Homo sapiens: one gene and its partner. The protein of the gene in region 2 interacts with the protein of the main gene of each other region in a pairwise test. Each region holds a gene or a part of one and is shown on either strand. Other genes may lie near its edges.

Region 1 (3,655 bases), on a different chromosome or scaffold from region 2:
GCCAGTCAATAAATTATTTTTGGTAGCCTCTAACATGTAAGTCATTTGCTAGAATTGTGGGGAATGCAAATGTGTAAGTCTTGGCTGTTGCTTTCAATGACACTGTGGCTTACTAAGGGAGAGAAGAAATGTTCATGAAAAACTACAAGAAAAAGGAGCCTACATGACTTTCAGTCTGAATAGTTGCGTAAACATAGTATAAGTGTTCAAGGGAAGGAAGGGCTAGTCCAGCAGGGTGATTAAGGTGGATTTTCTGAAAAGCGAGCATTTAGACCAGATCCGGAACGATGAGCAAGATCTCACTAGATCCAACAAGTACAAGCACTGGTTCCATTCCGGGCTCCATTCCAGATACCCTCACAGATGATGACTCATTACTGGTAACCAGCTTAGAGAGACAGTTTGTTGTGGGAGCCAGGGAAGTAAGTGGTTAGACTTAGGAAAAGAAGGAATTCTAAGCAGTAGAAACATAATTCCATGAAGCATTTCATTTTGGAAGAAACACAGGAAAGAACAATTTAGTGATATATAAATAAGAACACTGAAAATGTTCAAACTCAGATCTAATAATTCCATTTCTAAGAATTGATCCTTAGGAAATAATCCTAAAGACCAAAAAGGTTCAATCAATGAAGATTTTCATTAAAATGTTAGTTTAAATAAAAATCTATCTAAAATAGTACCCTCTCCATTTTCTCTCCCCTTGACTTGCTTTATTTTTCTGCATACCACTTATCACCCTATTACATTTAATTACATTATTAAATAGAATGTTATGGTATATTTGTTCACCTGTTTACTGTCTGTTTCCTCAAGTAGAATATAAGCTCAATTGGGGCAAGTATATTAATCTGTCTTGTTTACCAATATATCCTCAGTACCAATAAATATTTGTGGAAGGAAGGAAGAAAGGAAGAAATTATATGAAAATTAATAGTTGGCTGGGCATGGTGGCTCCTGCCTATAATCCCAGCACTTTGGGAGGCAGGATAGCTTGAGTTCAGGAGTTCAAGACCAGGCTGGGCAACATGGTGAAACACCATCTCTACAAAAAATACAAAAATTATCCGAGCATGGTGGCAAATGCCTCCCAGCTACTCGGGAGGCAGAAGCAGGAAGATCACTCGAGCATGGGATGTCGAGGCTGCAGTGAGCCATGATAGCATCATTTACTGCACTCCAGCCTGGGTGGAGTGCATAGGGAATGCATAAGGGAATGCTAAGGACATTATTTATTTTATATCCATTTGGTAACTTCAATTGTTAAAATGCTATTAATAATTAGAGCTTATACTACATGAAAATGTTCATGTATTCATGGTAAATTTTTTAAAAAGCAGACCAAATTATGCATATTGACCCATCACAGAAATATTTCTTTTAAAAAGCCCCCAAACAAACAAAAAGAGAGAGAATATTGTAAAACATTTATAGTGATTTTTTCTTTAGGTAATAAAAATGAGGTTAACTTTTATCCTTCATCCTTTTATTCCATATATTTTCCAAACTTTCCATAGTGAGCTTGGCATTTTTAAAATAGAAAAAAGAATAATAAAATCTTCACAACAACAAAGAAGTAATGCAGACAGGAACAGGCCTTAAATGTCAGGTTAAGGAGTGTATATGTGAAGTATGCATGTATCGAGCATTGGAAAGCTACTGTGGTTTTCAAGCAAAGCAATCATGGTAGCACGGTGATGTTATAGAAACAGACAAGGGATATGGAGGATGGGCTGGAGGGCAGTAGGACTGGAGACAGGGAGACTAGTAGGTACTGTGCTAGCCCATGTACAAAAGGATGGGCAGGAACTGAGATGAAAATAAAGAGCTAAAATGAAAAACACTGAAAATGCTCCACACACTTTGTTTTCCAGTTGAGAAGCTATCTTAGTTATTTCCTTTAATACTGTGAGATTTGGATGATAATTATCACCTCTGTCAGATTCCATGGGAGAAGAAAGAAAAACAAAATAGAAACTTCTTTCCAAAGCTGCAGATTCATCATAAGCTTTAGCAATGCCCCGAGAGGCATCCCTACAGGGGCAGCGTACACTATGACGTTGACAATTCTTCTGTTCTGTCACTCAGTAGGTCACTGTAGACAATTTATTACCATATACAATATATTACCTAACTCCTGTGAAACTTGGGGAAAGCTTCAGATAAAGGGAAATTTTCATCCTTACAGGAAAAATGGTAGGCTTTCTTTCTTGATTTGGAAATACAGATTCTGGAGTTTTGTGGTAACTGCTATTAACTGAAATGCCACTTCCTTCTTAGGAGTATCAGTATCTCCAAGTATTTTCCCATATTATGCACAACCCGTGTAACATTAAGAAATTCTTACAAAATACCCCTTGTTAAAACAGTTATATGCAGAAAACTATCCTTAAAAATACCTTTTAGCATCAGAATGGAAAGGCTACATATTCCTAAAGTCATTAGCAGAGACACTAATCCTATTCATTTCCTGAGTCACTAAACTGGCAGCTAACCCACATTACCATTCCCAGACAGGAAAGCTTGACAGCACAGGAACCATGAGTTGAATTACCTGTCCATTGTACAAAAGACTCATATGGCCAAAAGAATCTAAGACCAACTGGTCAGTTTTACAGAAAATAATACACAAGGAGTGACAGACGGGGGAAAGCCATGCAATAGATTTATGGCTTCACATACCTGGCATCAAGGAACCTTGATCTTAAAATCATAACTGCTTCACAAGTGCTTTGTTTGAGCTGCATCTGAATGGAACTAAATTTTCGATGGATGATGCCCACCATTCTTTCAATCTCTTTTGGAGAAATGGGACGTGTTCTACTCTGTTCTCGGAGAAGGTTCATCACATGTGTAGTAAATTCATTACATGCCTGTAATGGGAAAAAAAAATCACTCCTTTGGAAACTATCTACTATCACACGAAGACATTCACTCATCTGAATTTACACCTCATTTGCATTCACCAATAGCATTATACAGTGTGTAGGGTAAAATGAAAACTAAGACACTTGTAAAATGGTAGTAATAGTAGTTAAGGCAGCAAGAATTCTGAAACCGTGCATGGTCAGACGTGCAAGGAGACAGCATTCAACTACTCTTCCCACCCACCCCTGTCCAGTTCCAAAATGATGTTTTCCCATTCGAGGATGCTCCCTATCAATTCCCATATACAAGTAAAAATATATGTTAATTGTTAATACTAAGTACCACCTATTTTCTCTGGAGTTTTACATTTAATCAACAAATGCTTACTGAACAACTACAAAGTTCAAACTCTTGCCAGTGCTATAAGGAACACAGAAATGAGCAAGATGCAGGCCTGGCCTTTGGTGAGAAAAAATGTATAAAAAACTAATTCAGTGCAAAGACTAACAGGAAGATATTAAGTTCCAAGGAAGGAATATTTTCATCTGTAGGCTTCACGGATTGAGCTTTAAACAATAGGTAGCATCTTTGAAAGGTGGATAAAGATGGAAGTCAGGAGGAATTCCAGGTACTAGAAATAACAGTATGTTGCAAGTTCAGAGAATGGCAAATAGGAATACAGATAATATGTAAAGAAGCAAAAGGATTCAGGTTTGAATTAGCACATAAAGGGCCTTGCGTGCCAAGCATTCCAATGACCTATTATAATTTAGCTGTAGTGCAGGCC
Region 2 (3,755 bases):
GGGTGGTGGTGGGGTATTCCTGTGAATTTTTATCTTTTGTTCTACAGCCTTCTTTACTGGTTAAGTACTTATTTGTTAACCAAGAATGTGAAAACAACAGAATATCACTAACCCCAATCAAAGAGCCTCTCACTTCAAACAACATTTAGCTGGTATATAAGTACACGTGTGTTTACTTTGCTATTAGATCCAGGGCGGAGGTAGTGATTTTAAAAAAACAATTCTAGTAACAACAGGAAAAATCAAATTGAAAAACATATCAAGCACCATGGACTCAAAGGTTAAGTGTAAGTGCACTTGCCAACAATAGGTCTCAACTCAACTGAAAATGACGTGGCTTCCTTATCAATTCATGTTGTCCCCTGAATCCCCTTCTTAAGTAGGAGGGAAAAAACGTATTCCATATAGAGTTTGGTATGTGGGAAAGTTGTGTTTTTTGTTTTTGGGGTTTCTTTAGTTTTTTATTTAAGAGATGGGTTCTTGCTCTGTTGCCCAGGCTGGATAAGCTTTTGTTAATGCAAACGACATCTTATACTATAAGAGATACACAGAGATATACTCACAGTTTGGGGGAAATGTCTTACTAACATTCAGGTACTTAGTCTCAAAAATGAAGCTACTGAAAAAGCTTCATTCTCATGGAGGATGGGAAGAGTTACATACATGAGCAACTCAAGGGTTTTTTTTTTGTTGTTGTTGTTGTTGTTGTTGTTGTTGCTGTTTTGAGACGGAGTCTCGCTCTGTCTCCAGCCTGGAGTGCAGTGGCGTGATCTCGGCTCACTGCAACCTCCACCTCCAGGGTTCAAGCAATTCTCCTGCCTCAGCCTCCCGAGTAGCTGGGACTACAGGCGAGCGCCACCACGCCCAGCTAATTTTTGTATTTTTAGTAGAGAAGGGGTTTCACCATGTTGGCCAGACTGGTCTTGAACTCCTGACCTCAGGTGATCCACCCGCCTTGGCCTCCCAAAGTGTCTTTTTGTCTAATACTGAAAAGTTGCAAGAAACGTTAACTCTCTAAACCAGCGCTGTCCAATACAGTAACCACTAGCCACATGTGGCTAATGCGCACTTGAAATGTGGTCAGCCAGAACTGCGATATGCTATGCGTGTAAAATGCACCCAGGATTTAAAAGACTTAGAAAAGACTCCAAAAGAGAATGCAAATACTTCATTAATAACTTTCATAGTAATTTTAGGTTGAAATTGTTTTGATAAATTAGGTTAAATAAGATATGCTATTAAAATTAATATCGGTTTCACTTTTTTAAAACGTGCCTACTGGAAAATTTTAAATTACAATTTTCAATGCAGCTTGCATTCTATTTATGTTGGACAGCGCAGCTCGGAGCCTTAGTTGCCTCGGCGGTGAAATGGGGCTAACACCCACCTCGAGCGGTTACTGTAAGGATCCAGTGAATTAAAGCTGGTAAACGTTTGGCATATGCCAAGCAAAGGGCAGATGCCCAGGCAGGCGCTCGCACCAGAAGAGACTGAGAAGTGGTTGAAGCCGCCCTCACCTGGCTTCCAGCTACTGCAAGGACAGCCTTTGGGGGACACGCCTTTCTTCTTCCTCTGGTAGACCAGAAGCTGGACTATCACCCCAGGAACCCGAGGCCGCCCCAGAGTCTGCTGTGCTGCCAGCCAAGGGGTTGGTGAGTGAGGCGGGGGGCGCTCCTTCCCACAAGCTGGTCTCAGTGAGCAGAAACAGGGGTGCAGTGAGGAGGAACTCCAAAGCTGGGGCGGCCTGCTCGGAGGACGGCCGCGCAGGCTAAAAGAGCGGCCCGCGGAGAAGGCAAGGAGGCGGCTCGGCTCCCCGGACGTCAGCCTCGGCGGCCCCACCTACCTGCCCTGCAGATTCCCCGAATGCCGCGGCGGCCGCAGCTCCCGAGGCTGCGACGGCTTCTCCTCGTTCCACACCGCCCACTGGCTCCTGGTCCATCGTCGTCGCCACCACAGGGCTGCTGGCGCTGGTGAGAAAGAGGGTAATGGCCGGTAAGCCCACTTCCATCCTTGGTCTCCCCGCCCAGTCGCTGGCCGAGCCAGGCTGTCGGGAAGTGGGACTCACCCGCCCAGCGCCCGCCTCGCGCCGCGCCTAGCCAAGTCTCTGAGAAGGGGACTCGCCGGCCTGAGGGGCGGGGCCAGCCCGCGCCTCGCCTAGCCCGCCGGGCTCCGCACCCCGAGAGCTGGCCAACTGCAGTCTGGGAGGCGCAACTACCGGCTCGCGCGGGGCGGGGCGGGGCGGGGCGGGTCCTTGCGGGGCGTCGCTTCCGGCCAAGCAAGCATCCAGAGCTCGTGGATCCCCGCCTGGCACCGCCTGTGACGTCATTTCTGGTACGTGTACCTGAAGCCTGGCGTCTCGACCTCGGCGCAGCCCGTCACCAGCGGCGTCTGGGGCAGTCACCCCGCAGGACCTCGGTTTTTGCACTTGTAAAATGAAGACAGCTGTGTCGTTGTACTTCAAAGGCTAGTGATGGGATGTGGTTGCTGAAAAATGTAAAATGTACGGCTCGTGCTGCACTTTCCATTCCAAACGTGGGTGACAGTCCAGCCAAAATACCCTCGAAAGAAGAACCCCAGGCGTGATATTTGCTTACTCTTGTCTGAAATACTTAAGTATAACTGTAGAAAGTGTTAAGTGAAAAGACCTGAAGGAGAGCAAAGGGCAGTAGTAAGCTTCCATCTTGACAAATGTAAGGAATGTTTTATCTGTGTCTTAAAGTCGTGTGCGTATGTTAGAGGGGGCGTCCCAGATTTTTTCCGTCTTTCGCAATGTTCAACGAAAGTAAAAAATCATGCAATTACTGCATGACTTCAACATCAAACAAGTCTGAGGTTCTGCAGGTAAATGGTATATTGTTGTTTTAGCATGAAAGTTTTCACAAATATGTAGGGGGCAAAACCAAAACATACATTATTTTGGCTATGGGAGGCTTCATTTGATACTTTAAATTCCATTTTCATACTAGTCTCAATTCAGAAATGCTCCCTAAAGTTGTATGACCTTGTAAATGTTTTTCATCATAGCAACAGCAGGCCCAAATATTAAATATTCCTTTCTCTTCTGTGCCAAAGTTCTTCTCCTTACCCTCTGCCTAATGTTATTGTACACTTCCTATTCTATGTATAACTGGAACCTAAAAACAAAACCAAAAACTTTAAAAAACAAATAATCATTTGAAAACCATCTACGCCTTAAAAACTAGTTGGAAATCCATATTGCTCTCTATCCTGGTAATAAAATCAAGTTAGGTTGCTGCTGAAGTAAACAAGTTAGTACCTGATCTGACTCTGTATGGTGGCATCAGCAGGGAGTTGAGACAGTCCAAAACAGCAAAACCAAACTCGGCCATAAATTGAAAACAAAAATAAAGAACCAATTGTTAAGACTTCATGAATTGGCATTCATAAACAACACAGTTCTGCATTATATGTATTCAAAATCTCTTCCTTCTTACTGGCAAGCAGGGCAATCAACAATCTTTATTACTAAAACTTTGTGGGATATTTATAAATGCATGATTTTATTTTCCAAAGTGGCAATTAAATATCAAATTACAATTTTCTTTTTCTTTTTTTTCTTTTTTTTTTTTTTTGAGATGGGGTCTCACCCACGCTGGAGTGCAATGGCGCAATCTTGGCGCACTGCAACATCCGCCTCCCGGGTTCAAGCGATTCCCCCACCTCAGCCTGCCAAGTAGCTGGGATTACAGTTGTGCACTACCACGCCCGGCTAATTTTTGTATTGTTAGTAGAGA

Evidence for each region.
Region 1: the proteins of FAM177A1 (region 2) and PBX3 interact in a two-hybrid assay, tested with the Homo sapiens proteins (one large-scale study listed by BioGRID).

What each region holds. Positions count from the first base shown.
Region 1 is NC_000009.12:125,928,873-125,932,527, reverse strand, and holds part of PBX3 (pre-B-cell leukemia transcription factor 3), read right to left. Parts: intron 2,874-3,655; coding exon 2,683-2,873; intron 1-2,682. UniProt on the Homo sapiens protein: Transcriptional activator that binds the sequence 5'-ATCAATCAA-3'.
Region 2 is NC_000014.9:35,044,717-35,048,471, reverse strand, and holds the start of FAM177A1 (protein FAM177A1 isoform 1 precursor), read right to left. Parts: upstream 2,201-3,755; 5' UTR 2,009-2,200; coding exon 1,844-2,008; intron 1-1,843.